5 separate regions of the Homo sapiens genome follow, and all the other regions are reported to be linked to region 4. Evidence: microRNA targets listed by miRTarBase, many of them from high-throughput screens and not tested one by one. Region 4 holds a microRNA gene; each other region holds the end of a gene's coding sequence.

Region 1 (6,015 bases), not on the chromosome of region 4:
ACCCAGGAGGCGGAGGTTATAGTGAGCCAAGATCATGCCACTGCACTACAGCCTGGACAACAAAGCGAGACTCCGTCTCAAAAAAAAAAAAAAAGGTTTATTCATTCATACACTCATTCAACAAACACACACTGTTACTGTTCACAATTGAGTCCAGTGGGAGAGAGAAGAAAGTGAATGAATAGTTTCATAACAATGTGATAAGTGCAGCACTGGAGGAATGCAGTAGACTAAGGGCTCCTATGCAACCTGAGGGGTGGGAATGACTTGGAATAGGAGTCATCCAAGCTGGGAGGATGGAGAAAATAAGGCAGTAAGTTAGGGCAGCAATGAAATTCATAAATATAAATCTATTTCGATATTCTTTTTTCTTTGGTAGCCTTAAATACACCAAATATAAAATAGAGTTCAATAAACAAGTAAAGTCATCAATTAGCACTTTTTAGCAAATAAAATAAGTAGATTCAAAGTTTTAAGAATGAAAGGTAAAGAACTAATCTCAGAGCCAGGCACTGTGACACACCTGTAGGTCCAGCTACACAGAAGCCTCAGGCAGGAGGATCACTTGACCCCAGGGAGTTCCCAGCTTGGGCAACGTAGCGAGACCCCAGCACATAAAAAAATATATAATTAATCTCACCTTCTAAACAGAGAAAAATGAGTTGAAAAAAGTTATGATGTGACTACCTCAGATTTCCTACAAATGTAGGACAGTTCCCTCTGAGAGAGCTTATTTGGCGGCAGGACCTAATTCAATATAAGGTGGAAATATCAAAGAGAAAATGAAATAAAAACTAAATGGGCCCCTCCACCAACAAAAAATTAAAGATTATTGCGTGGGAGGTCACCATTGAGAATAAAAGACGTAGAACAAACCAAAAAAAGAAGCTCTCAAACTAAGGAGGTGAAAAAAAGAAATCAAACGGGAAACCTGCGGGTCTATGTGCACAGTCTTGGTCTTCCCCCACACAACAAAATCTAGGGCCACTTTAGGGTTCTATGCCCTTTTGTTCCTAACTCGACATTGCCCACTTCTGGCCAGAATGTAAAGCAACCCCCAACCCAGCATCTAAACCCTCCTGGACCTCTGCTGCCCCCCAATGACTGGAAAGAAACTAGGTTTTTTAACACAGGTATCAGTAGCTTCTTCCCCCAAACTCAACTCCTCATGTTTTGTAGTAGCCGCTCAACACATGAAACATACCATCCACTAGGTGGCAGCAAAGCCCACAGAATAACATCAAGTTCCCCTTCCCGAGGTAATTTTCTAGATTACTATACTTTAACTGAATTCGAAAAGCCAACATAATTTCATGTTTGTAAACAGTGCTGCCAGTCAGAGTTTAAAATGTTCTGCCCAACCCTGTAGCCCCCTTGTTCCAGCTAGGATCAAACACTGAATTTTTTAAGACTTGTGAGAGAATGGTCTCCATTATAAAAACAAAACAATGCTAACAAGGCACAGGCATTTGGCAACTATCTCCCTGGGAGCTGAGCACATTTTCAAGCAAGGTTTTGTCCCTTTGGGCCCAGTTCACCCTTCCTTCTGACCCAGGGCCCAATTCATCAGGAACTTTAATTCTCAAACTGTGATCCAATACAGTTCTGTCCTTCTTTTCCTCATTACCCTTCAGAACACCTGAGATGGACTGAGATTTTTTTTTTTTTTTTTAAAAAAGAGTTTCACAGGCCAGGTGCAGTGGCTCACGCCTGTAATCCCAGCACTTTGGGAGGCCAAGGCGAGTGGATCACGAGGACAGGAGTTCAACACCAGCCTAGCCAACAGAGTGAAACCCCATCTCTACTAAAAATACAAAAACTAGCCGGGCAAGTGCCTGTAGTCCCAGCTACTCGGGGAGGCTGCGGCAGGAGAATTGCTTGAACCCGGGAGGCAGGGTTGCAGTGAGCCAAGACTGCACCACTGCACTCTAGCCTGGGCAAGACAGTAAGACTCTGTCTCAAAAAAAAAAAAAAAAGAATTTCACAAAGAAACACAGAAGAACAAACATGGAAAAAACTAAAGTATATACATTTTTAAATACTGAAATCCACTGAGCTTCTTTCTGTCATGGATTCATTCAAAAATATGCCGCCACCTACACAACAAAAACTGATCATTTCAGGTGTGCATGGATTTCTGGGGGTCAGAAGCTCACTGGGAGAATTTTTGCTTTTGTATTTTCATTTGTATAGTCTAAAAAATAAAAAATATTGAGTCTTTCTTGATCACCTGGATAGATACATTAGTTGTAAGATTTCTAGCAAGGGGCTCTTTTTTTTTTTTTTTTTTTTTTTAGAAAACAGAGTCTTACTCTTGCCAGGCTGGAGTGCAATGGTGCAATTCGGGCTCACTGCAACCTCCGCCTCATGGGTTCAAACGATTCTCCTGCCTTAGCCTCCCGAGTAGCTGGGATTACAGGCACCGGCCACCACGCCCAGCTAATTTTTGTCTTTTTAGTAGAGACGAGGTTTCACCATGTTGGCCAGGCTGGTCTCAAACTCCTGACCTCAGGTGATCCACCCACCTCGGCCTCCCAAAATGCTGGGATTACAGGCATCAGCCACCGTGCTCAGCCATCCTAGCCAGGCTCTCTCAACTTCAGTTCCTCATCTGTAAATGAGAACAGCAAGCCTATCCTCGTGAAATTATTCTGAAAATAAAATGATATAGAACAAGAAGTACTTAAAGCATAGCACACACTGAGCACTCATTATCTGTTAACTTCCTTACTTCCCCTTGAATTGTTTATTTTTTTAACCCAATGCCATTTTCTTTTGACCTGCCTCTTTCAGAGTAGGTTAGAGTTTGTCACCCCCAAATTCATGTAAGATCAGCTATATTACAGAATTTTTTTTTTAATATCAAACTCTCAACTTAGTTGGAAAATATAAAGACATTCAATCTGTTTTGTTCTACCTTCTGAGCTGGTATAAATATTGAGAATTTACTTGGAACTATTTTTAAAGTGCTGTGGCACAGTGCACATATAGCTGAGTTAGAAGCACATAAAAGGAGCAAATAAATGTATATTTTTAAAAACTGAGAGCAGGACAGTATAGTATAATTCAAATGAAGGATCTCTATGAAAAACAATCTGGGCAATCCCCCAGAGAGAAAGATTTTTCTATGAACATACTCTCCATAGAAAGATTTAACACTGCAATCTGGGATTGAGGATTTTGCTATGCTTTGGGCCCATAATTCCCAGCTGAGCAGGTGGTCCTAGGTTGTTAATATGGTCTGCAGTACACAGTTTCTGCTGAGACTGCTTTTTTGTCTTTGCTTTTGTCATAATTTTGAAATACTAAGCTCTCTGCAGTAGAGTCTTCCTCCAATCATGACAGCCCTAAGAAATAATTTTCCATGATTTGGTATCTCCCTGAGCCTAGAAAACATCCTTGAAATGTTTGCTGTGTCCCCTTCCTAAGTACACACCATGACTCATCTAGAAAAAAAGAACTTCAGAAATCTAGAGTAAGCAATCAGAAGACATGACCTTTCCAGAAGGCTCTATCAGGAAGCCCAAGGGTTACTCATATTTGCAAGCGTGAGAAGGTCAATGTTGGTGGGTCAGTTTTCTACCTGCATTCAAGGTTATCCACTGGTAACAGTTCATTTTAACTAGCAATAGCTGTTATCCATTGCTCAGATAACTCATCTGCTGTCCCTGCTCCCAGATGGTACAGCTGCTCTCTTCTCTGGATTTTTGCAGCACTTTGTTCAAACCTATAGCGAGGCCCTAAATGGGCTGTATTTTAACTGTTATGTTTACGTATTCTCCCCTACTAGACTGTACATGTCTTGAAGGCAGAAGCCACACTTTTGGGTTTTTTTTTTTAATTGAGATAGGGTCTTGCTATGTTGCCCATGCTGGTCTCAAATTCTTGAGCTCAAGCAATCGCCCACCTCGCCTTCCGAAAGTGCTGGGATTATAGGCATGAACCACCACGCCCAGCCAACAATATTGTTTATATTCCCAACAACAAGACATTGGCTGGCACATAGAAGGGGAGGGAGGAAGGGAGGAAGAGGATAACTCAAGTCTTAATCAGGTGTCTAATGAGTTAAATTGTATTAAAATAACAGAACAAAGTGGTTCTTAAAAGTTTTTCACTGTTGGGAGGCCAAGGCGGGCGGATCACCAGGTCAGGAGATCGAGATCATCCTAACACGGTGAAACTCCGTCTCTACTAAAAATACAAAAAATTAGCCGGGCGTGGTGGCGGGCGCCTGTAGTCCCAGCTACTCGGGAGGCTGAGGCAGGAGAATGGCATGAACTCGGGAGGCGGAGTCTGCAGTGAGCCGAGATCGCACCACTGCACTCCAGCCTGGGTAACAGAGCGAGACTCCATCTCAAAAAAAAAAAAAAAAAAACAGAAAAGAAAAAAAAAAAGTTTTTCACTGAAATAAACCTCACTGTCAACTTACCACTACCAAAATGATACCTTACCTGAACTAACAGAACTGTTTTTGAGGCAGTATCAAAGGAAAGGATTTAGGTAACATATTATAAGTAAATGACTAATTCATGTCAGAAAAGGAAGTATAGTCACTTCCACATTATTGCATCCACTTTGCACATAGATGCTCTAACTCTTATACTAGATTTCTGCTGGTTAGTATAAAAATGACAGCTTTCCAAGTGGTGACAGGAAGAGGTTGGTCCTAGGATATCCTTCCCCCAAATAGGATGAGATCTCCTAAGGTTCTCTTTTCTCTACCACCCAGAACATTACATTTTGCAATGCAAAGGCAAAGATTGCATGCATTCATCAGTAAGCTACATGGGATACCGGAAGGAGTACGGGGCCAAGAACACCGCTAGACTAGGGCACTTCACTGCAAACACTTAACTATGTGGCCAGGGAAGGCCAATGGATTGTTCTAGGCCTCTGTTGTCTCATATATAAAGTAACAGTGTTGACATACGGTATGGAAAACAGCCATATATTTATTAAAGCTTTAGAACTCTGCTTGGGAGGGAGCGATTTAGGGGAGGGCGTACCATATGTGATGAAGGCCAAGCAGAGAGGGCTTTTCAATTTCTGTCCATCAAAAAAAACTCCAATTCTACTTCTGCTTTATATACCAAGATTCTTTTTGTAAGAGTTTGTTTGGGAGAAGGGAGAAAGAACTCTACTGCTAAAAAAGTGAAAATGGCAAATGAACCAAGCAGCATCCCATCTTATATTTTAAAGTCTTCTCCCAAGTTAACCCAATTTCCCCATTTATTTCTACTTTAAGGCACATATTAGCAAATGCCCACAGTCATTCATCCAACATACACTGGATGCTATCAAATTTAAGTGCTATGAAAACAATGGTCCAGCATTAAAAGTCATCTGAGATCAAAATCAGAAAAAAATTAACTAACAAATCTAAAGGCAAAACCTACCATTTATGTCTCTTCCAAAATCTCCGAGTTATTTTCGTGGAGTTATTGGTACAGAAATTATTGTACTAGCTACAAACATTAATTTTCTATTACCTTAATGATTTGAAGAACAGAAAGACAAGGCAATGACCAAGAGCAGTAGCACTGATGAATTATGATGATATTAATGCATACTTTGCAGACCAATGGAAAATTCTGCAAATGTCAATAGCAGTATGGGAGCCTGGCCAACCATGATCAAAACCAGTCCCATCCAATTTCTCTTCCTAAAATCAACATTATAGGACAAGGACTATGATCATCACTTACATTCTTTTAGTCTCCTACTCCTCAATTAAGTAAATGAGAATGATTCAGCCAACAAAGTTCATGACAACAAGGTGCAGGATGGTGCTGGCAAAGAGAAAATCAGCAAAGGCTCGCTCTGGGGAGATGCCTTGGAAATCCGCTTTGTTCTGTGGGTTGATCTGTATTCTCAGGCAAACTGCACAAGAAGCAAAACACAAAAAAATGATTATATAGAAGTATAAAATAAATATGCTAATGAACACAGACATACCCGAGGACCCAACAATTCTACTCTAACAGAAATGAATGCATATATACATCAAAGGGCATA
Region 2 (6,216 bases), not on the chromosome of region 4:
TTTCTCAGGTAATTTCCCAAATGGGGATACAGACAAGTATTTATCTGACACCATTCGACCTTTGAGAAGGCACTTGAACTAGAATTCCCAGGCGTCTGGATGCTTTTCTGCTTGTATTTGAGAAATGAAAATCTCAAAGACTTTCAGATTAGTGTATGGTTGCAGAACTTGGAAAGCAGTACAGTTAAATCAGTTATGACTGCTTAGTCCTTGTATTAGGCTCTGTGGGCCAAAAGGTATTGATTTTTGTGTAGAGCATCAACCCCAAATTAGCTAGAGGTAAATTTAAATGTCAATGGACAGTTTTTAAAAACGAAACATGATGCATTAACCTGTCCTTATTTGATTAGCCTCATCTTTTAAACTCTATTTATGATTGTATGAATCAAGTAAGAACCAAATATGAATTACTATCACTAGTATAATCACATCATAAAAAGCTGTTTCTGTTCTAACCTTGGTTACAGATAAATGACAGCCCTTAGATTCACTAGATCTGTTTTCAGAAGGGAAGACTCAAGGTAATTGGATTCAGAAGCATTAGTAGAGGCATAGTTGGGTGCCCTTAATGTCATTTGAATAATGGGACTATTGCAAATCTCTCCCCCTTTCAGATTCCCCTCGGCGACTCTGGTGGTATCACTGGATTTGCTGGCTTCTCAGCGTAGTTGGAATCTTCTGTATTCTCTTAGCGCATGACCACTACACTGTGGACGTGGTGGTGGCATATTACATCACCACGAGACTCTTCTGGTGGTATCACACTATGGCCAATCAGCAAGTGAGTTTCCCCGCTTTTGATTTTAGCTTCTGTTGTTTCTGGCTTGATGTTGCTGGCTTGGACAGGGTGCAAAGAACCTGTGGATGTCTGAAGTTTCTCTTTCTTAAGTAGTAATCAACTAAGATTGTATTGTTTTTTTGTGACATTGATTCTCTTCAGAATTAAGAATAAAAAGTTTATTAATATAATGATGTGAGGAATTACTTCCTTCTAGAATAAGGAACGCACTTTCATTGTCCTTGAAAAATGAAAAATATTTTCTAAGCTTGTGTCCCTCCTTGCTTGATTTGCTTTCCTATCCTCTTCTCCCTACCCGGGGCACATCACAAGCTTAATATTTAACATTTAATTAAGTGTTAACATTTTTAGCATAGAAGAGGAATACCTAAAAAGCTAACTGAGGTGTTTATTTATAAGCAAGAGATGAGTGAGCCATAAGTTCTCCTTGCCCTCCCAGAATTGGCGTTGTTTTTCTACTGGGATGTGGCTCAGTTTGTAGATGAATGTGGAGTGTAGAATGGTGATGAGAGAGAGAAGCTGGGATATGTGGGTGGACACGCAGGGCAGGTATGGAGTCCTTTGGGAATTTTAGCGTGGCAAGTATTTGAACTTAAAGTGAAAGATTGTAAGAAATGTGTTTATGTTTCTTTGTTATCCTAGGTGCTAAAGGAAGCTTCCCAGATGAACCTCCTGGCCAGGGTGTGGTGGTACAGGCCATTTCAGTACTTTGAAAAGAATGTCCAAGGAATTGTACCTCGATCTTACCATTGGCCTTTCCCCTGGCCAGTAGTCCACCTCAGTAGGCAAGTTAAATACAGCCGGCTGGTGAATGACACATAACAGCTGTACAAAGTGGGGAAAAGACAAATTGTCCGAAGTGCTAAGAACTCCATGAGAGAAGATGCCATAAAATAAACACCTCCCTAATCCTATTATCTTTCAATGGTTACCTTGACTTAACCTATTGAGTTACCTGGTCAGCACTGTGATCTTTTTTTCTCTCCAAAGGACCTGCGTTGGACAACAATAAAGAAAAATTTAACCTATCATGCACTGTACACATTTCCTGTTCATAAGTTTGGGATTTACATAACCCGCAACCACCATGTTCCTTTGTATATGATGCAGCAGCATAAATGTAAGCTTTTATATCATAAGTTCTGGTCTTTCCAGTCACATCTGGAAATAAAGCGTATTATTTTCTTGGGAAAACATACTTTTCATATCTCTTGCCCCAAAGATTGGGCTGTAAGCCATTTTCTAGCAAATGTCTCTATGAAGGTTTCTAAGTACCTGAATGGGGTTTGATTCTGAAATCTTTCTACCTGTTGCACCGATATTCAAATAAAAATGATAGACACAGAAAGGTTTGGTAACTTTGGGTTTTGTAAAATCAGCAAAGGCAGTGTTTCAAAAAGTGCAAAAAAAAAGATTCTGTTATAAAGTGATTTTCTAAGTATTTCCTAACTTTATTTTTCAAAATGATGTTATGAACACCAAATTTAAAGATTTTTAACATGTCAGAGAGAAGAGAGTTAAAATTTAAAAATGCATCTTGGGAGAGAAATTTGTCTATGTTTCTAGTGCCTTTCTTGTCTTGATTGTATGGTCAGTAGGCAATCTTAAATGTTTTTATTTAAAATAAAGTATTCCTTGAAAATATAAATATATGTATACACTACTAAATTTTGCATTTATAGCTAAATTGAATCAGAAGACTGCTTATGGTTTTAAAATTGCAATGACTTAAATAATGAGGTTGTTAATTAGAGTCAGAGCCTGTTCACATATTGTGATCAGGTAGCAATGACATGTACCACTTAAATTATTTTATCGTCGATTTGGTAGTTCAATTTTAACTACTCAATGAAAACAGCCATGAATATCTTTTCTTAAAGAGAGTTTTGAAAATGATCACTTACCTAAAACTTGAAAGCTATGAATTAGTTATCCATACTCTCATGACAATTTTGTTGGTGAACAACAAAAAAGAGATCTATTTCTTTAAAAGATATTTGTGCAGAAACTGCATGTAACTCTAAGTTTTACTCCTAACATACATATGTTTGGGGAAGTATTCTATTCTATACTTGCCAATGTGGAGAACAAAATAGTTTTTTAAGAATGAAGAAGTATATATATCCATTCTGTATTTTACGTGCAGCAGAATTATCTTCCGTAGGATTTTTTTGTGTATTCACAAGGTGATATTTGTATTGTAAAACAATAATGGTGAAGGAAATAAAAAGGCTTTTAAAATTTTGTTTGTTTTAAATCTTTGTAAAGTTATTATTCCAGAGAGTATACTGGTATCTTACAGCTTACCTAGATCATAAATTAATCAAAATGCACTTTTTAATAAAAACTGATACTTAAAATAAATGGCTGTTATTTCTACTGTGTTCACATTCTTCACAGAAGTCATAAATGGAGCCATTAAAGCAAGATAGAAAATCAGTTTCAGAATTTCTTCATGGAGTGTTTCTGCTTGACATGGGACTTTTAATAATTATCTGGATTTTTTTCCTTGGGATTCCTTAAAATATATTCTAATCTTTAGTAAATTCTAGAGAGTTTTTTAATATATAAAAAGAGTCACATGTAAGTTAAATTCAAACTTTAGAACAATGTTTACTAACATTTTGAATTCTCTAATTCTCAACCAAATTGTTTTTTTTCCTATATCTGGCAGTAATATAGCTTCTCCAGTGTAGATGGAAAGGAAAAGTAAATCCAAAGTGAGAAATAGAGTAATAGTACTATGATAAACCAGTGGTAATGGAAAATAACTATTTAAAAAGAATAAAAGGTTATTATTATTTCTGATGTGGTGACTAAAGGAAAATGTCAACAGTGGAGATGTGTCTTTGATAAAGGATGTGTTAAGGAGGCTAGAAATGTAAAACCAGAGGCCAGGTGTGGTGGCTCACGCCTGTAATTCCGGCACTTTGGGAAGCCGAGGTGGGCTGATCACTTGAACCCAGGAGATTAAGACCAGCCTGATCAATATGAAACCCAGTTTCTACAAAAAATACAAAAATTAACCTGGCACGGTGATACATGCCTGTGGTCCCAGCCTCTCAGGAGACAGGTGGGAGGAGCGCTTGAGGCCGGGAGACAGAGGCTGCAGTGAGCCATGACCGTGCCACTGCACTCCAGCCCCAGCAAAAGAGTGAAACTCTATCTCCGAAAAAAAAAAAAAAGGAAATTAGAACCAGTAAAACTTTTCCTGTGTGGGGCTTTAAACTTGTGTATCAGACAGGGGAAATGTGGTGGCCTCTTTAGGCAAATAGAGCCAAACCCTTGGATAGGTCTTTATTTAACTGTTATAGCCTTTCACTAACTTTGACTATCAGCTGCTGCCATATTGAAGGGAAAGTAAATTGAGTAAGTGGAAATGATATATTGGCACTTGCTAAAAATAGGATTTTTTCCCTAAAAAACTAGAAATCATTATATAAAAATTTGTTATGAGTTTACATGCCACATATGTATCAAGAAATCCACTGCTGATTGTTCTTCATGGCTGACTACACTGATTCATGAATTGACATATCTTCTGGGTCTCTAGTGTGCAAATCCCAGGAAGGACAAGGAGAAAGCTCATTGTATTCTAGAGTATCATTGTACACTTGGTAAGGATTGCCTGTATAAGGACATGTGCTTTCTCAATGTCTTTTTTTTTTTTTTTTTGGCTCACTTAAGTTAGACATTTTACATGTATTAGTTAACCCTCACACATCCACAAAGTGTAATTATTATTGCCATTTTACAGATAGACCAACCAAAGTGACTCAGATATATTAAATAACTTGCCCAAGGGCATGCAACTGGTAACTGGTAAAAGTCCTATTGGAAGCCAAGTTTCCCCCCTCCCCCATCAATACTGTGAGCTTTCATAAACTCTTCAGTAAGAGTCTGCAGTGAGAGAAACCTATGCCTATGGTGGTAAAGCATACTCTCACCATGGACTGAGGAGCAAGAAATTTACACCATAAGGTGTGAGAGGAAAATTTGACTGATTTCCTAATTGCTATATGTTTTATTTGTATCCCAAGCACATGCCAAATTTTGATCAATGTGATAAATATCTCATAATACCTCATACAATGGAAATGCATGCCAACCTTAATTTGACCACCAATATACAAAAAGTCAACCAGATTTCTGAATTTACTAGAAAACAATATGTTGCTTGGATCACTAGATATTGACATCCTTTATTTTTTTTTCTCCCTGTAGTCAAGAAACAATTTGAACAAATCAAAGCTGTTGACTTGGTATTCTGCTTATCAGCACCTTAAAATACTTATCCATCTCCTAGTTTACAGTACAAGTCAGAAGGAAATTAAATGACCTTTCACATTTAAAGTGATAGTTGATATAACTGAATGAATATCTATCATGTTTGTAACTCTTTTCTGTTTGTTGCATTTGTCCTCTCTTCATCCCTTCCTTTTTCTGTCTTCCTTTAGTTTTGAACAATTTATGATTCTATTTTATCTCTTATCATACCAGTTATTCTTTTTACGAATTTTTAAATGGTTGCCCTAGAGTTTACAATATAAACTTTTTTCCAAATACAAGCCTGCCTTCAAGTGTAGTGTAGGCATTTTATAACAACACATTCCCAATTTCTCATTTCTGCCCTTAGAACATTGATGTCATTCATTTGACTTATCCATATGGTATAATCACTCAACACATTATTACATTTATTACTTTGAACAAGCAATTACCTTACAGATCAATTAAGAACAAGTAAAGATTTTGTTCATCTTCACTTATTTATTCTCTGATGCTCTTCTTATGTAGTTCAAGCTTCTAACCAACATCATTTTCATTTTGCCTGAAGAACTTCCCATTTCTTGCAGGGCAGGTTGGCTGGCTTTTTTCTTTCAACATTTTAAATATTTCACTCCACTTTCTTCTGGCTTACCTAGTTTCTCACAAGAAGTCTGCCATAATTTTATTCTTTTCTTCTATAGGTAATATGTTTTTTCTCTGACTTCTTTCAAAAATTTCTCGTTGTCTTTGCCTTTCTACAGATTGAATATGAAATGCATAGGTGTAGATTTTTTTTGGTGAGGGTGGTATTTATTTTTGGTGTTCTCTGAGCTTCCTGGGTCTGTGGTTTGGTGTCTGTCATTAATTTCGAAAAGTTGTCAGCCATTATTACTTCTTTCTTCTCTGCTTTCCCTTTCTTTTGTTTCTGATACTCCCGTTATGATAAGTTACACATTTTGAAATTGTCCCACAGTTCTTGGATGTTTGCCTCCCACTTTTTTCAGTTTGATAGGTTTCTATTGACATATCTTAAAGCTCACTGATACTACTCTCCTTGGCCATGTTTGTTCTAATGATGACCCCATCGAAGGCATTCTTCATTTCTGTTACGATGTTGACTATTTCTAGCAGTTTCTTTTGGTTCTTAG
Region 3 (6,216 bases), not on the chromosome of region 4:
GACAAATACTGTATGATTTCACTTATATGTTGTATCTAGAGTAGTCAAATTCAGAAACAGAAAGTAGAATGATGATACTGAGAGACAGGGGAGGAAGAGGGAAATGAGTTGTTTAATGGGTACAGAGTTTCAATTTTGCAACACAAAAAAAGTTCTGGAAATTGCGTAATCATATGAGTATACCTAACACCACTTTGTTAAGAGGTAAATTTTGTTATGAGCATCTTCTCACAATTAAAATAACTAAATGTCATTTTTTAAAAGGACCCAATGATTTGTTAATGTGACAATGACACTGCAGGTATGTTTTAAAAACAAAGTATTTAGAGATACATGTAAGTTGTTATCTGCATGTTTATGGTATGTAAGGTTCACTGTACTATTTTACTTTTGTAGAATGTTTAAAATTTTCCTCAATTAAACAGAATAAAATAACTTTTAAAAAAGGAAACCAATAAGGAAATGAACTTTCCTAACCAAGAGAACCATCTAGCATGAAAACATATGATTATAGTTTAAACATGTAAAGTGTAACATTTTAGCCATAACTGATAAACATGTCACATCACTTATTTCACTTGAGAGAAAGCTGCTAAAAAACTAATTATTAACTGGGCTTGCATCGGAAAAACAATATGGAGAAAATTACATGGACAGTCTAAGTTTGCTATGAAAACAATGTACTTTTATTAATTAAAAGTCAAAAACAACAAAAGGGAAATTTCACAACCTTTGTTTGCAACTATATAATCTTTATGTAGAAAAACTATAAAGTGACAGTCTGATCTGGAAAGCAGCTCAACAATAAATCTAATCCTTACATTAAAAGTAAGTAAATTATAGAATCAGTTCACCCAAAAGAAATTGTCTTGCTGTAGAATATTTTAGCCCAACTGATTTCAACTATATTATTCTCATTTCTGACAAACTGTCTTTCCTGATATTTCAAATCACCAGAGATGTAACAGACAAGAACCCGTTGAAGTAAAAGAATAAAACACAAATACTCCAAGCACAATTACATGTGACATGATGAGTGCATTTAATCTACAATCTACAAAACTATACAAATTACCAATTATACATATAATCCATTTACATTGAAGCTCCATGAGGTGGTACTGAATAAACACTGAGGCATCAAATTTTCAACAATGGAACAAGGCTCACGGAACAGCAGCACATTCCCACCTTTTAGTCTAGCATCACAACACTTCCCCTGGGATTTGTACTTATTTATATATTATCTAAGTCCTAGGAAGTTGGTAACAAAAATTTTAAGTCAAAAGGATAATGAATTAAACACTCCCTAAAATCTATTCTAAAACATGCGTGTGAAATATGAAGAGATCAAGCACTTTGTAAATGTGAGATTTTACAGTCACGTGTTCCTTTAAACTTATACTAGTATCTTCACTAGTATCTGCACAATTTTCTGTAATTAGGCTTTTCACTAAAACTTAATAGAAGAGGAAAACAACAAAGAAAAAAACCTTATTTGTAAACTGTACAGTCTTAGAAAAGTGGTACTATTTATTTTTAAAACCAACTTTCTCTGCTAAAGAAATCACACTGTGTGGTCATCAGAACAGTTTAAGTCACTTTGGCAATACAGAGATTTATTTACCCTTATTTTGAATAACAATAATGATGATGATAAACTATTGTCACGGTCATATAATTTTTCAGAACTTACGCCACCATGGAGGCAAATGTGTACAGAATATTTCTAATAAACCTAAATTTAATCACAGTTAAAATTTCTCAAAAGTATTTTCAAGTGCTCAAGAATATTAAAGTTTGGGGGGAAATACCTAAGTCATAAATAAGCAAGTATTCCCTCCAAGATTCACTAATTGGGATAAAAGTCTCAGGGTAAGCCCACAAGAATGGTCTGCAATAAAGAAAAATCAGGTCTGTGTAGAGTAATTTCTGCCATCTTTAGCAGAAAAGCCAAAAACATTCTGAGCCAAATAAAAGCAAAGATCTTTTGATTCAGCGCCTTTTGTTGTGTTAGTTTTAATTTCTAACTTCTCAACATGTTATAGCTCAGAAATTCCCATATGCTTACTATCTGTAATAAGGAACTATAACGTTAAAGAAAAAATTCAGAGACGTGATCATTTTCCATCATAGGTCTGTCTCTCTTTGGTAAGAAACAGATCAAGACTTACTTATTTTCTCTCACCTACAGAAGAGAGGGGAGTTAAATGTCATTAACCTAGTAAACAATCCCTGTGTATAAACATTAAGTTGGAGGGTAAAGAGCCTAAGTCATGCCCTTTATAAGAACTGTGGAAAACAACTCTGGCACGTAGCTGTGGTAGAGGACAGTAAGTGTCCACAGATAGAACATGATCTTTCCTGCAACTGGAAGACCATGCTTATGAACATTCTAGTCAACCTATAGAAATTTTGCTCTGTAACTTGAGTGTCCTTCAGACAAGAAACATGAATAATAAGCTATTATAAAAATATGGTAGAATATCTTCCCCCTTATAAGTCACCAATTTCTGATCCCATTAAACTTTCATAGAATCCATGGGAGTATTAAGTAGGTTTACTCTAGGTAATTTGTCATGAAGTAAAACTGGAAATAACCTATCTAATAATACCATTTGCAATTCAAGAAAAAAAAATCCAATACAATCTAATATGTACATTAACAAACTTCACAGAATATATATTCTATCAGGCCTAAGAAATCCTCACCCACCCAACCAAAAGAAAGTCAGTTTCACCCACTGTAAGATAAACCATGACACTTGTATCTGGATCCAGAAAAAAAGAACTGCTAAACTCCAATGTAGTAGGAAAAATATTACAAATAAGCACCCAAAACTGACCTAAAATTTTCTACTCAATCCCGCAGGATGTCTTTTTTTGAAGAGAAATAAGCATCCCTTGCAACTTGACTGGAAAGATTATTACCTGACCAATTATTTCTAAGCCTATACTAGAAACCAGTGCAAGATGGAATGCCAAAATCACCACCAACTCGACACGACCGTTATTTTTGCAAAGAAAGGTAGTTATATAAAATTCCATTCTCCCAGGCAATGAGCAGGGGAGAAAAACATGTTACTTTTTAAATGGCTACATTTGTAGGTTTTTGAGTATCAGCACCAAATGTTCACTTTTAATTATTCTGAACAAATTTTTAGGAATTAATGTTTCCTAACAAAATGGACTAACAAAACAGTGAATAAGGAAATAACTTTCAAGCAATATTTGCATGCTGATAAGAACCATTAAGTAAAACAGTGATTGGCTCATTTCCAAAGCTACTGTAGGTGTGCACCGTTTGGAAATAGTGTATCTCACTGCTCAGCTAATATAGGAACTCTCCAAACCATGGGTGCACATCTTATTTTGTGACTAGGCAAGATTAAGTAAAACAAGTTGAAAAGATTTTTTTAAAAAGCAAGCTAAATCAAAATAATCCATTGTTAGAATAGTTTTCTACTTTCTCTTTTAGGGAGGAAAAAAAAAACCCATCAAACCAGTGTATGAAGTGCCTACATAAAAAACTGAAATCAAGATTCACAAATAATAGTGTCAGTTCAATTCTACATAACCCTTTATTATATTTATAGCAGTATTATGACCAACATTACACAAGTTTTATTTCTTCCTCATACCGTAGCAAATTTATTTTCATAATAGAGTTCAACTCTGCAAATGGTTTAAATCAACTTTTTGCACCTTGAATTTACAAACCATTAGATACGAAGTTTCCTGAAAAACATTTTATTTTTAAATTTTACTTAAAGCTATAACTAAACCCAAGTCTCTTGGGAGTGGGGGGGGACCAACTAAGCTGTTTAAACACAAACTTATAAAAAATATTCTGATGCCAGTGTTTGAAAGATAGCCTACAGAAGATTATAAAAGGTCAACGATCATACAAGAGAATTCTATGGCCAAACCTTGTTAGAAAATTTGTTTTACAAATAAACTTCTTTCATAATAGAAGAGGAAATGAAAAGATATTTAATTTCCCCCTAAAAGTAAGTAGTTGCTCAGAACATGGGTTGGATGTATGGAAATCATATTGCTTCTGTGAAAAAAATGTTTTAGCCAGGCATTCCACTAACAAAACGCCATGCCATATCTACCTAGTCTTTGATATCTGGGTATTAGTATTACCCAAGAGAAACTTATCAAAAGCAAATGGTTAGCAAACCACCAAATAGGAGTCTCAGGTCCCTTAATTTGGATAGTCATCTTAGTAAATATAAAACTTAAGCTACTTGAACACTGGGGCTTATAAAGTGCATCAGGTATAAGAAGCACAACAGTAGTGTGAAACTCAGTAGGACTTTAAGGGACTTAATATCACCGGTGGGGCAAAAAAACAACATTATAGTTTTCTGTTCAGATTTTATTTGAAATCTAATTCAAATTGTCAAAGCTACAAAAGGGGGGAAGACATCTGTATTATTTTTGCTAAGTCACAACATCCTAAAACAAAATACTACTACTGTCAGCAGATCCATTATACACATTTCTGATGAAATCCATTAGAACAATAAAAATTTCATCTTGAGAAATAGCCACAATGAAAGTAATTTACACAATATAAAACAATGACAGATCTACAGATGCAGTTGCTCATGAGTTTACACATGCATACACAAACAAACAAAAAACCCCAGGAATGCTCTTTCATTTGATTTTTTGTTTTTTTAAAAAACAGACCGTTCAGGCACAAAACAAATCGCATTTCCAATAAGTGACAGCATCTTAAAAATTTACGTCAGTGTTTGTTTTTCTTTGACTTTTTATGAGACCTGTGTGGAGATCTGGACTGGGATCTGGACTTCTTTCCTGATTTTTTAGGAGATCTAGACCGTGATCGCCTAGACCTTTTAGGTGTCCTTGAACCAGATGGTGATCTAAGGAAACAAACAAAAAAATCCCAATTGATAAAGTACTCATGTGATCAAAACTGTTTATCCTTAAACGATCGAAAATGATCTTTAACAGGGCACAGTGAAAAATCACTGCAATAAGACTATGAACTTCTAAAATTTAAACTCTATTGTACACACACACACACAGATTATTTTGTACTTACTATGCACTGCATCAATGATCATCAGTAGAGCGCTTGTTTATAAAGACAGATTTCTGTGCCTTATCACTGCTCTACTGAATCAAAATCTCTGGAGGATGGAACTAAGAATTTGCATTTTTAACAAGCTCCATAAGTGACTGATAACCCCCAAATTTGAACCTTTAATCTACAAGATAAAGTTCAAAGTTGCACCTAAGATCATGCACAAAATTTAAAAAACACAGCAGCTTTGAAGTTTATCATCCTGAAGCAAACAACTACTGCAGTATCATTCAAGGGCATCATTTAAGACATAATTTTGTAAGTGCTGTTCATGAAGGATTACTTAAACCAATAAAGATACATGTACATATACATACATATATAACACATACATACATATATATACAGGTGCCATTTAGAAAAGGAGAAAGGTATCTATTCTGTAAAGATTTTACTAAAAATAGTTACAATAATAAAGTATTAGCATACAAAGCAGTTTTAGCTCTCAGGAAAATTCCTCTATGTATCACCAGATAAATAAAACATTTCTGAACCATTTTTCTGGAACTAAAGGAAAAAAAAGTATACAAAATACTAAAATACATACTGAAAAAATGGTATTCATGATATGTATTTCCAAAAATATCTACCCAAGAACTTGCTAATAATATTGCTATGGGGGAAAAATGTGTGTTTCTTTCAGCTTTGACAAAAATCAAATAATATTCTATAGAAACTAAAGAACAGAACGAAAAGTAAAGCAGCTAACCCTATTCCACAGAAAACATTGGATATGATGTTTAAAATTCTTGGCTGGTCCTCACTTGTTGGAAGCCTTCACTTCAGTCATGAAAGAGATTGGGATGAGGAGGTGGGGAGGAATAACCAAAAATGAAAGTGTATCTCTTTGGTTTTCTAAAATCCTTAAAAAAAAAAAAAAATGTATGCCAACCAAATTATTTTCAAAAGCTGATGAAATGACAAGGAAACTGGTATCTGAAATATTAGCAAAAATGACTTGCATTTACCTTTTGGCTTTTTTGCTAACATCTCTAGGAGAATCTTTGTGAGATGACCTGGACCGTGAGCTCTCTTTATGAGATCTTTCTGAACGCTCTGATCGCTCCGATTTTGGTGATGGGGATTTCACTCGT
Region 4 (6,062 bases):
TGGCTCACGCCTGTAATCTCAGCACTTTAAGAGGCCGAGGCGGGCAGATCACCTGAGGTCGGGAATTCGAGACCAGCCTGACCGACAGGCAGAAGCCCTGTCTCTACTTAAAAAAAAAAAAATACAAAAATTAGCCGGGCATGGTGGCATTTGCCTGTAATCCCAGCTACTTGGGAGGCTGAGGCAGGAGAATTGCTTGAACCCGGGAGGCGGAGGTTGCGGTGAGCCGAGATTGCGTCATTGCGCTCCAGCCTGGGTGACAAGAGCGAAACTCTGTCTCAAAAAAACAAAACAAAACAAAACGATTTACAATACATGGCTTTTTAGATTTTCGGTACGTATGTTAAGAATTGTGTACAAATTGAAATGTCTGTACCGATCTTCAACCAATAAAATCTCAATTATGAAAGAAAAAAGTAATAACGTTCCATCTATTGTATCCTCACGTGAAGAATAATTCCCACACTTAAGTGCTTGCTTTGGCAGCACACATTAAACAATGAAATGATAGGTTCCCACGGCCCCTGCGCAAAGGTGACAGCCAAATTCATGATGGGTTCCGTATTTAAAATTAGGGGAAAAAAATTTCTCACACTTAAACAACAAATCACTTCTTGTTCGAGTAGATTCTAGATATGCTGTTAATCTGAAATACAAATTTAACCGGGTTTCCCTGCTCTGGGAAGCCCCCTTTGGCAATTCAGATAAGGGTCTTTTTTTGGAAGGCAATAGGTAGGAATACGGAGATGTCAGCAAAGGGAAGGGGCTCTCAGGGATTTCTATGGATTGTGCAGATGTCCTGCGAGGTCCCAAATTTCCCCAAAAGATCCTGAGTCCGGGCAGAAAGGACCACTGGGCTCCAGAAACCAAATGAAGTGGCCCAGAGTGGGAGCCTTTGTCATCAGATTCCATGACTGAAAGACAGCCAGGAGCAGAGCAAAAATCCCAGGGACTCTCTCTACCAGAAGACACCTGCTCCATCCAGATCAAACCCAAACTGTCACCAGAGAATGATGCCTGGCACTCCTTTCCCCTCGGCTCATCCTGCCTGCACCAGTGCAATGCCCTGGTGTTCCCAGTCCAGATGCCTTCACTCCATCCAGTGCCCCAGGAGGGTCACCTTGCAGTTATCAGAGAGGAAGATGGGTTCTTCCACCCTTGTGAGCTTCCCAGACATCAGGGTGTGCCCACCCCACTCCATTCCGAAAGGATGTTCCGCCCAGTTCTCCCAGCCTCCTGCTTCCATCCAGGGACCATCCTTCATTGGCAAGATTCACACTTCAGACAACCAGAACCAACCCATTATATTAAAAGTGGTCACAACAGGCCACCCATTCAAGACTGGTTTTTGTGAAATGCCCACAAGAGGCAAATCCAGAGCTAGAGAGATGTAGAGTAGTTGCCAGGGTCTGAGTGGAAGAGGGGGGTGGGTACTGAAGGCAAATGGGTATAAGCTTCTTTGGGGTGATAAAAATCTTCCAAACTAGAGTGGTGGTGGTTGCAAATATGCTAATGTTCATTTGTAGTCCAAACTACCAGAGACCGTGGAGGGGCAGAGGCAGGAAGATCTCTAAAGCCTAGTTTAGCCCGGGTGGCATAGCTAGACCACTGTCTCTAAAATAGAAAAATTAGGCTGGTCATGGTGGCTCACGCCTGTAATCTCAGGACTTTGAGAGGCCGAGGCGGGCGGATCACTTGAGGTCAGGATTTTGAAACCAGCCTGGCCAACATGGTGAAACCCCGTCTCTACTAAAAATACAAAAATCGGCCGGGCGTGGAAGCATGCGTGTAATCCCAGCTACCTGGGAGGCTGAGGCACAATAATTGCTTGAACCCGGGAGGTGGAGGTTGCAGTGAGCCGAGATCAGGCCAGTGCACTCCAGCCTGGGCAACAGAGCGAGGCTCCATCTCAAAATAAATAAATAAAAATAAAATAGAAAAATTAAATCAAATGTGCATTTATGATGTGGTCATGCGCCCTACATTTCAGCTTCATTTTCCCAATAAAAACTCAAAGCCCATGCACTCCACCTCCGTGCTCTTGCTAAGCAGTGCACATCCCACCTGCAAGGGACACTGAGGTTCCCTTCAGCTCTACCTCAACCCAAGTCAAGGGAGGTTCTGTAAACCAGTGCAGGCATAACTTCCACGGAGTAAAAGGTGTTGAGGGCTGGACGAACAGGCATCGCTCACTACGGCAACAACGAGAGCTGCCTCGCATCCCACCTGTTACTAGGGAGCCCCTTCTAGGGCCCTAAAGGCTTTCGTGAAAGTATCTGTGGTTGGCCGGGCACAGTGGCTCACGCCTGTAATCCCAGCACTTTGGGAGGCTGAGGTGGGAGGATCATCTGAGGTCAGGAGTTCCAGCCTGACCAGCATGGCGAAACCCCGTCTCTACTAAAAATACAAAATTACCTGGGCGTGGTGGTGCATGCCTGTAATCCCAGCTACTTGGGAGGCTGAGGCAGGAGAATCGCTTGAATCGCCTCCAGGAGGCGGAGGTTGCAGTGAGCCGAGATCGCACCATTGCACTCCAGCCTGGGCAACAAGAGTGAAACTTTGTCTAAAAAAAAAAAAAAAAAAAAAAAGGATCTGTGGTTTTGTCTTGTGCGACATTTATCACTGCCACTGAGATTCATCTTGTCTACAATAGTTTGTTTCTTATATTAGCCACAGCAAACATTTCACATCTTACCGAGCAACTGACACTTAGATGTGAGCTTTTGCCCGGTGGAATGGTACCTTGGAATCGTTACCCATAGAAAATAGGATAAAAGAACTCACTGGGGTTGGCATTAGTGGGTAAGGGTTGAATCAACCACACCCTTCCTGCAGAGAAAGCAGGTCTATTCCGAGAAATGATGGCAAGTTTTTGGGGAAGAAAAACTAAAGACACAAATGAATAGGAAAAAGAAAAGAAATTTTATTAATATTGACAACCGTTGGGGATTACAAAATAGACTGGATAGACGTGGAGGCGTTCTTAGTCTCTTAATGAAGGACACATGATTTGGATTGATTACACTAAATTGATGGGAGGCTAGTGTTTCAAATGACCAACCCAAATGAAGTCTCTGGGACCAGGTGCCAGGTGCCACGTAATCTGTGTTTTTAAAGAGATGGGATCTTGGTATGTGGTCCAGGCTGGCCAACATATGCTCACAGGAAGAACAATTCCTACACATAAGTGCTTGCTTCAGCAGCACACATAAAAATAAATGAAATGGGCCGGGCACAATGGCTCATGCCTGTAATCCCAGCACTTTGGGAGGCCGAGGTGGGTGGATCACCTAAGGTTGGGAGTTCAAGATCAGCCTGACCAACATGGAGAAATCCCATCTCTACTAAAAATACAAAGAATTAGCCGGGCGTGGTGATGCATGCCTGTAATCCCAGCTGCTCGGGAGGCTGAGGCAGGAGAATCGCTTGAACCAGGGAGGTGGAGGTTGCAGTGATCCGAGATCATGCCATTGCACTCCAGCCTGGGCAACAAGAGGGAAACACCGTCTGAAAAAATAAGTAAATAAATAAAAATTAGCCGGCCTGGCGGTGGCTGCCTGTAATCCCAGCTACTCGGGATCAAAAGTGTGATCAGCACATGGTATAGCCTGGAAATCAAAGGACCCTCCCACCCCGGCTTCTGCAGTAGCTGGGACTGTGTGCCCCATGATGCCTGGCCATGTCAGCTACGTTTGAAATGGGTCATCAGGACAAGGCGGCTCACACCTTTAGGATCCCTTGAGCTCAGGAGTTGAGACCATCTTAGGCAAGAGAGATTCCCTTTCTATCAAAAATTAAAAACTATCGGCCGGGCGCGGTGGCTCACGCCTGTAATCCCAGCACTTTGGGAGGCCGAGGCGGGTGGATCACGAGGTCAGGAGATTGAGACCATCCTAGCTAACAGGGTGAAACCCCGTCTCTACTAAAAATACAAAAAACTAGCCAGGCGTGGTGGCGGGCACCTGTAGTCCCAGCTACTCGGGAGGCTGAGGCAGGAGAATGGCGTGAACCCCGGAGGCCGAGCTTGCAGTGAGCCGAGATCTTGCCACTGCACTCCAGCCTGGGCGACAGAGTGAGACTCCGTCTCAAAAAAAAAAAAAAAAAAAAAAAAAAAAATTAAAAACTTAGCCAAGTGTGGTGGCATGCCCCATGTAGTCCCAAAACTTGGTAGGCTGACTTAAGAGGACCACTTGAGGCCGGGCGCAGTTGCTCACGCCTGTAATCTCAGTACTTGGGAGGCAAGGGAGGTGGATCGCTTGAGGACAGGAGTTGAGACCAGCCTCCCCAACATGGTAAAACCCTGTCTCTGCTAAAAATACAAAAATTAGCCGGGTGTGGTAGCCCACACCTGTAATCCCAGCTACTCGGGAGGCTGAGGTGAAAGAATCACTTGAACCGGGGAGGGGAAGGCTGCAGTGAGCTGATAATGCACCACTGCACTCCAGCCTGGGTGTCACCACCAGACTCTCTCTTGAGAAAGAAAAATAAAAAAAGACCTCTTGAGCCCAAGAGATCTAGGTGGGAAGTACCACCGCACTCCAGCCTGGGCAACAAACACACTGTCTTGGAAAAAAAAACAAAGCAAAAACAGAACCCAACATCATCCAAGTCTGATGATAAGCATGCTCTGCAAATGTATTACCAAAATCAGCATCAACTTCAACGTTGCTTTTCTCAAACAGTAACACTCTAAAAGGATGCACTTTCCTTTCTTTCAGACAACAGAAAGCGCTTCCCTGTAGAGGGACACAGCCTGAGATCTTCTTGCTCCGGCACTGTGGATTTTTTGTTGGAATCTTCCTTGACCAGGTCAAAATGGACACAAAAATAAAGATGCATTTATTGGCCCTGTTTGCGTGTTTTCTGGAATCCAGAGCATAAATCCCTAAAAGGACCATTTCCAGTTCCTTGCTTCAAAGAATCAGCAGGTTAGTCCTGTTCATCAAGGGGCAATCCTCCTGTGTTTTGTCTCCAGAAAGAAAAAGCAATGCCTACTAGATATATATTATATTTGCACAAGAGGATTAGGCTGGATTTCTAGAGAACAGCAAATGGACTCTGAGCCAAGTCTTCACTTGCGTTCCAGTACAGGGACACACAGTCCCCATGGAGGCACCCAAAATGGAATCGAAGATGTTGAAGAATATACATTGTCACACACACAAACATCCTCCAGGACAGACCACAGGCGAGGCCATAAAAGCTCCTTAATAAAATTTGAGCAGAAACACACAAGTAAGAGTAGGGCACGGTGGCTCACACCATTAATCACAGCAGTTTAGGAGGCCCAGGTTTGAGGAGTACTTGAGCTCAGGGGTCCGAGACCAGCCTGGGCAACATGGTGAAACCTCATCTGTACAAAAAATACAAAAGTTAGCAAGGTGTGGTTGTGCATGCCTGTAGACAGGTATTCAGGAGGCTGAGGTGGGAGGTGGAGGTTGCAGTGAGCCAAGATCGCACCACTGCCCGACAGCCTGGGTGACAGAGCCAGACTCTGTCTCAAAAATCAATCAATCGATCGACAATAAAAATGCAAAAATTAGCCAGGCGTGGTGGCACATGTCTGTAACCCCAGCTGCTCGACAGGCTGAGGCAGGAGAATTGCTTGAACCCAGGAGGCAGAGGTTGCGGTGAGCCGAGTTCCTGCCACTGCACTCCAGCCAGGGCCACAGAGCAAAGAAGACTCTATCCCGAAAAGAGGGCCACTTGAACCCAAGAGATCTAGGTTAGAAGTGCCACCGCACTCCAGCCTGGGCAACAGATACCTTGTCTTAGATAAAAAAATAAAACAAAAACAAAACCCCACCATTATCCATGTCTGATGATCAGCACGCTCTGCAAATGTATTACCAAGATCAGCGTCAACTTCGACGTTGCTTTTCTCAAACCGTAACCCTCTGAAAGGAAGCACTTTCTTTTCTTTCAGACAACAGAAAGTGCTTCTTTCCTCGAGAAGGTCACAACCTGAGATCTTCTTGCTCCAGCACCGTGGGTTTTTTTTTTTGGAATTTTCCTAGATCAAGTTAAAATGGACGAAAACATAAAGATGCATTTATTGGCCC
Region 5 (6,216 bases), not on the chromosome of region 4:
GTAAGTTGCAACCTTGCAGTGTCTAAAACTCTGATTTCTGTTTCCCCAGTTTTAACCTTGCCTGGTGGCTCAAGGCTCTGAAACAATTTTAAAGTGGTTAAGATACCATCACAGCCTGGGCGCGGTGGCTCACGCCTGTAATCCCCAGCAAAGATTAGCTGGGCGTGGTGACGCGTGCCTGTAATCCCAGCTACTGAGGAGGCTGAGGCAGAAGAATTGCTTGAACCCAGGAGACAGAGGTTGCAGTGAGCCAAGACTGCGCCACTGCACTCCAGCCTGGGCAGCAGAGTGAAACTCTGTCTCAGGAAAAAAAAAAAAACGATACCATCACACACAAAAGATACCATCACAAATATGTAAGGATAACATTTTGAGGTTTTGGGGGTTTTTTGATAAGCAGAAAAAGCGTTCAGAGGCCAGAATTTGAGTTGGTTGATTTGCTCCAAATAATGTTAGATTCCCCCCAGGTGTTTTAATGTACAAAATACTCCAAAATATCCAATACGTATATTTCACATTTAGAAAAACCAAACGGTTTAAGCTCCAATATGAAGAAAAAGTCTCCATTACAAAGTTGCAAAACTGCCTACATATTCCTTTAGGGGACTAGCAACTATCTCTCCATTTGTGCCATCAAAGATAATTACACTAAAGCTGGGACTCCACCTTTCCCCATTGACTTCATTTCTTTACACAGTGTTGCTCCTTAAACTTGTGGCAGATAAGTTAGGCAATAATCTCACCATGTCCTCTGAGCTAAGCGGACAGGCGAGGGCAGCTCAGGACAGGAGAAACTGAGAAAAGCCCAGGAAGGAACACTGGCCTCTGCACTAGGCCTACTAACCTCAGCAAGCTTAATCCCCAGTTTACAGATGGAACTGAGGCTCCACCTTGTTCAAGGCCACCCAGCTAGTAGGTGGTAGAGTCTTTTCAGTCAAAAAAGAACTTAGATCCTTGGAGTGGTTGATACACCACCCAAATAAGACAAGATGTAAGTTTGAGGGTTTTTCCGATAGGTGAGGATATACAGTCATCCCTTGATATTCAGGGGGAAATGGTCCCAGGACCTCCTGAAGATACCTGAATCCGAGGATGCTCAAGCCCCTGATATAAAATGATGTAGTGTTTGCATATAACCTACACACATCCTCCTCTATACTTTAATTCATCTGTTGATTACTTACAATACCTAATACAATATAAATGCGATGTGAAGTTGCTATACTGTATTGTGTAGGGGATAATAACAAGAAAAAAAGTCTGTATATGGTCAGTAGTGTATTTTCGACCTATGGTTGGTTGAATCCTAGAACCCGCTGATGGAGAGGGAGGGCTGCCTGAACATCATGGTGTCTCCTGTTTTCATATTCGGTAGCTCTAGCTTGGGGCAGTCCCATCCTCTTCGAATGTATCTGGAAATGCATGGGAGCATCTTTTGTAGTCAGTGGAGGGGGTGAATTGCACTGCTGACATTTAGGGCTCAGAGGTCTGGGATACTAACACCTGCTGCAATGCTTATGTTGCCAGTTCCACAGGATGAAAGATCATCTAACCAAAAATGCAAATAGCTATCTTGTTGACAATAGGCTCCTCATCCGTTCAGGATGTGCGAGAGTTACTTTAACATGGGCATGAGCTCAGAGATGGAAGTGACTTGTCAAAAGTGCAGTATACAAGCTGGGCACGGTGGCCCGTGCCTGTATCTCAGTTACTCAGGAGGCTGAAGCAGGATGATCATTTGAACCTAGGAGTTCATCTCATCTTTTTTTGAGATGGAGTTTCACTCTTGTCACCCAGGCTGGAGTGCAACGGCACGATCCCGGCTAAGTGCAACCTCCCCCTCCCGGGTTCAAGCGATTCTCCTGTCTCAGCCTCCCGAGTAGCTAGGATTACAGGTGCCTGCCACTACGCCCAACTAATTTCTGGTATATTTAGTAGAGATGGGGTTTCACCATGTTGGCCAGGCTGGTCTCAAACTCCTGACCAAAGTGTTGGGATTACAGGCGTGAGCCACTGCGCCCGGCTGAGATCCCATCTCTTAAAAAAAAAAAAAAAAAAAAGGGTGGGGGGCATTATACAAAGTGGAGAGTCCTTAAAAAGCTCAGACTTCGTACAGGAAACAGGCCATGCTGGCTGTACCGGTCCTTTTGTCTGGCCAGTGTGGGGAACCTGTGAAACCTTCATAAGGTCATCAATGGTCAGATGACAGTTCAAATTCAAGCTCCATCACTTGCTAGCTGGCTAAACTTGAGCAAGTGTTTTTGGAGCCTGTTTTGTCCATAAAAAGGGAATAATAAACTCAAAAGATTGTGGGGATTAAACAAGGTATCTGAATGTGCCTGGTATACCATCTAGGTAGGGACTAAGTGTTCTGTGAAACGGTGGCTGTTTATCTTGCCATTTTCACAAATGCCACACCTGGCTTTGTGCTTCTTAACCACTTTCTTACAATGATGTTTTAATTCCTGTGAAGAAATAGCCCACAAGGTATTTGTTCTGTCAAAGGCTTGGATGAAATGTTTTCACCCAACTGCTACCTCTTGGACCAACCAAAAAACAAAGAAAAACAAGTCGAAGGGAACTAATAGCAAAATTTAAACCTGAGAAACTAAAAATCTTTGTTAGCACATTATATCCAATTGCATGCTAATTCACCAGTGTTCTTCATTATTTTACACATACTACAAAGAAGAAAAAAAGTTCTTTTCATCATAATCTATGAAATAGAATTCATTAATACCTGAACAATAGTGAAGTGAGCAACAGAGGGTAGTCCTGAGAATTCAGAAGCTGAACAACTACATAGGAAATGCAACTATTTGGTTATAATTGAAATCAGATTAAAAACAGTATGTTTAGGTCAGGCACAGTGACTCATGCCTGTAATCCCAGCATTTTGGGAGGCCAAGGCAGGATTGCATGAGCCCAGAAATTTGAGACCGGCCTGGGCAACAAAGTGAAATCGTGTCTCTACCAAAAAATCAAAAAAATTAGCTAGGCATGGTGGCATCCTCCTGTGATCCCAGTTACACAGGATGAGGGGATGAGGCAGGAGAATCATTTGAGCACAGGAAGTCAAGGCTGTGGTGAGCTGTGTTCGCACTACTGCACTCCAATCTCGGCGACAAAGCGAGACCCTGTCTCAAAATGAAACAAAACAAACCAGTTGTTTGGCTATATATCACACATTCAGGGTCCACAGAATAGAGCTGACCAAAGCCATTGTCAACCTCTCTGCAACAGCAAATTAAGTTTTTTTGAGATGGAGTCTTGCTCTGTTGCCCAGGCTGTAGTACAACGGTGTGATCTTGGCTCACTGCAACCTCCGCCTCCCAGGTTCAAGCGATTACATACGTGAGCCACCGTGCCCGGCCAAGAAGCCTTTCTTTAATAACTCTCCTCTGTAGACAACCTTTTCTTCTTCCAAATTCCTATATATTTTTTTGAATTTACTGTGTAATTTGAGAGTTCAGAGGCTGTATAGTTGAGGTGAAAAGAGGTGCATGACAGACAAGTTAAGAATTGTAATTGAGTCCAGGCCTGGCTTACTGGCAGTCTGGCCCAAAATGCAAACAGCCTTCTATTTTAAAAAAAATTGTTAACAAGGTGCTAAGGAGACATAAATCAGAGTAATCCATATTTGAGATCATCCATTATATCCCAAACCAAAAAAAAGAGACCTCTATGGACCAATGGCTAGGATTCAGAAAATGCTTAACTATAGAAAATAATTCTTTATAGGGTAGTTTTGTAACAGGATTTTACCGTAGCAAATGTGGAATAAAGAAAAGGTTTAGGTTTAGGAACACCCATTAGGGTTTTTTCGTTACTTCAACATAAAGTACCCTTTAATACACGAAGTACATCCTTTAAACAGCCAAGAGAAAGGAGGTTGTACAATAGAGACGTCATGTTTGCTTTCTAAACATTTGTTTGACTCCTGACACAATGGTTTTGCTTTGGGGTAACATGAAGGTTGCCAAACTTCAAAGTAAAAAAAAAGATATTTTCTGACAAAGCAAATGTTCAGTTCAGAGTTGCCTGATGCTGTCAGCATTCCAAGCAAACTCAATAGGAAGAGGTGAAGTCTTCTTCACTGTATAACCATCGGCGTGGCTGCGGTCTACTGCTTCACATCCCATTCTCCAGGGAAAGGAAAAGTGCTCGCTATGATGCATTGTTTAACCAATGAGTGGTGAGATGTGCCTCTTTACCTGAGGGCTTCCAGACTATAGTTCAGCCACCTTGCTCTCTGGGTCATATGTAGTCCTGAAGCATGTACCATGTTATGGAAAGCCAAGTTTCAAGAATTAAAAATGCAGAGTCAGTCACAATCCTGGGTGCTGTGAGGAAGGCTATAAGGCATTCGAACAAATTTTTTTTTTTTTTGAGACAGGGTCTTGCTCTGTCACACAGGCTAGAGTGCAATGGCGCAATCTCGGCTCACTGCAACCTCTGCCTCCCAGGCTTAAGCAATCCCTCCCACCTCAGCCTCCCAAGTAGCCGGAATCACAGGCAGAAGCCACCGCGACCAGCTAATTTTAGTATTTTTTTGCAGAGACGGCATTTGCCATGTTGCCCAGGCTCGTCTTGAACTCCTGAGCTCAAGCGATCTACCCACCTCGGCCTCCCAAAGTGCTAGGATTACAGGCGTGAGCCACCACGCCCGGCCAAACAAAAGATTAATAAAAACAATGTCTACACAGTTCGTGGCAGGGCGTAAAAAGGTAATAAATTTTCAACCGTGAGAGGGGTTCCCCATCACCTAGGGATTGGGCTGCCTTCCTGGAGTGGGGGCTGACATGGAAATCCAATTCTACTGAGGGTCTATGCATGGTAATTGGCAGAAAACATGATAGAACTAAACACTTCAATTCTTCTCGTTTGAGGAAAACAGCTCCTTAGAGAGAGCTTGAGGTTCAAGTCCTTTTCCCATTGTCATCTATTCAGCCATCCACAGCTTGAAGGTCCTGTCATATGAGCAAGTGGCTATGAGCTGCCCATCGGAAGAAATATCTAGGCCCATCACTTTGCCTTCGTGGCCAGCCAGAGTCTTCAGCGGGGACCAGCCTGGGTGCGTCCAGATCTTGGCTGTGTTATCATAGGCACCAGTAAGCAAGAAGTTCCCATGGATAGCTACAGGAGAAGAGAAGGGGAATTGCTTGAGGAATTCAAGTATTCAAAAGAGAAGACAAAAGCACAAAAGTCTGCAAAAACATACTATTTTTAAAAAAACTTGTTTCTACAGACTTAAGGGAACAAATAACAGTAAGGTCTTTTGGCTCATTCCCTGACCGAGAATCTATTCAGAATAATATTAAGGACTCAGTGCTCAGAGCATCCATGGAGGAAAGAATGAAGCAAAGCACTCATGAAAGTCTGCTTTACTTCCTGCAACGAGAAGCGTGCTTTCCCACAGATCTAAGGGTATGGCAGAGGGAAGGAAATTATAATTTGCTCCTTTACCAGTAGGTCAATTTCTCTCCTGTTTTACTGCTCAGTTAAGCTAAAGCCTGGCCTGCATTCCACGGGAACACAATACTGTTTGTCTGTGTCATTTAGACGTAAAATAGGAGGAAAGCTTACGCTCAAACTTGACACCAGTCACTAAGTTCTGATGAGCAGGGATGGTGTAGACGCAACGCCGCTGTCGGAGGTCCCACACTTTGCAGGTGTTGTCACCACTGCCGGTTGCAATGTGATAGCTGTGGATTGGATGCAGTATTGAAGTTAGAAATAGAGTACTTACTGACCCAGAACCCTTTTTCGCCCCTCATTCAGTGTGTTTATTTTACCCATTGGGGGAGAAATTTATTCCATAGATTTCTTTCAGGTGGCCTTCTAAGAACATGATACAACGTCCTGTGCGTAGGTCCCAAACTCGACCAAATGCATCCAGTCCCCTGAGAAAATAATTTAGAAATGAACACTTTGAATCCAGTTCTCTGTGGAAGCAGGTATAGGTAAGAGGTGAGAGTACTGAACTGCCCCTGACTACATGGGAGAAGCCTTACCCAGTGCCAGCCAAAGAGCCATCTTGATGGAAGGCAATGTCATACACACCCATGCTATGGCCTTCCTGATGCAGGATCTCCTCTTGAGCCTCCAAATCCCATAAGCGCCATGAACGGTCATAGCTAAAACCAAATCACACTAACAATCAACCAGCTGATATTTATTCAGTTTCTACAACACATAAAGTATTCTAAGCCATTA

Evidence for each region. The annotated mature microRNA hsa-miR-519a-3p reads AAAGUGCAUCCUUUUAGAGUGU and lies in region 4 at 4,685-4,706, opposite strand. An mRNA with a match to its seed (bases 2 to 7 or 8) in the 3' UTR can be bound and repressed. Matches are read on the target gene's strand: a 7mer-m8 pairs with bases 2 to 8, a 7mer-A1 pairs with bases 2 to 7 and ends in A, and an 8mer does both.
Region 1: the mRNA of DAD1 is a reported target of hsa-miR-519a-3p. The part of its 3' UTR that is shown has no 7-base or 8-base seed match.
Region 2: the mRNA of SGMS1 is a reported target of hsa-miR-519a-3p. Seed matches in the 3' UTR shown: 7mer-m8 at 3,129-3,135.
Region 3: the mRNA of U2SURP is a reported target of hsa-miR-519a-3p. Seed matches in the 3' UTR shown: 7mer-m8 at 4,273-4,279.
Region 5: miRTarBase lists PRPF4 as a target of hsa-miR-519a-3p. The part of its 3' UTR that is shown has no 7-base or 8-base seed match.

Annotation. Positions count from the first base shown.
Region 1 is chr14:22,569,354-22,575,368 of GRCh38, forward strand. It overlaps DAD1 (defender against cell death 1), which reads right to left. Exons shown (of 3, transcript NM_001344.4): 2 at 5,706-5,880. The coding sequence ends at 5,750. Among named protein-coding and RNA genes, the nearest start is that of LINC02332, 15 kb to the left of the region's middle. RefSeq lists an enhancer at 941-1,663.
Region 2 is chr10:50,302,547-50,308,762 of GRCh38, reverse strand. SGMS1 (sphingomyelin synthase 1) reads left to right here. Exons shown (of 11, transcript NM_147156.4): 10 at 615-781; 11 at 1,442-3,163. The coding sequence ends at 1,621. Among named protein-coding and RNA genes, the nearest start is that of ASAH2, 54 kb to the right of the region's middle.
Region 3 is chr3:143,054,994-143,061,209 of GRCh38, reverse strand. It overlaps U2SURP (U2 snRNP associated SURP domain containing), which reads right to left. Exons shown (of 28, transcript NM_001080415.2): 27 at 6,091-6,216; 28 at 485-4,898. The coding sequence ends at 4,760. Among named protein-coding and RNA genes, the nearest start is that of U2SURP, 57 kb to the right of the region's middle. RefSeq lists an enhancer at 1-60.
Region 4 is chr19:53,761,041-53,767,102 of GRCh38, reverse strand. It overlaps MIR519A2 (microRNA 519a-2), which reads right to left and starts at 4,759; the gene lies at 4,673-4,759. It overlaps MIR516A2 (microRNA 516a-2), which reads right to left and starts at 5,970; the gene lies at 5,881-5,970. LOC124904766 (a long non-coding RNA gene) reads right to left here. Exons shown (of 2, transcript XR_007067335.1): 2 at 2,904-3,507. It also overlaps the pseudogene RNU6-165P.
Region 5 is chr9:113,290,387-113,296,602 of GRCh38, reverse strand. It overlaps PRPF4 (pre-mRNA splicing tri-snRNP complex factor PRPF4), which reads right to left. Exons shown (of 14, transcript NM_001244926.2): 11 at 6,015-6,137; 12 at 5,796-5,903; 13 at 5,587-5,705; 14 at 3,698-5,136. The coding sequence ends at 4,943. Among named protein-coding and RNA genes, the nearest start is that of RNF183, 9.9 kb to the left of the region's middle.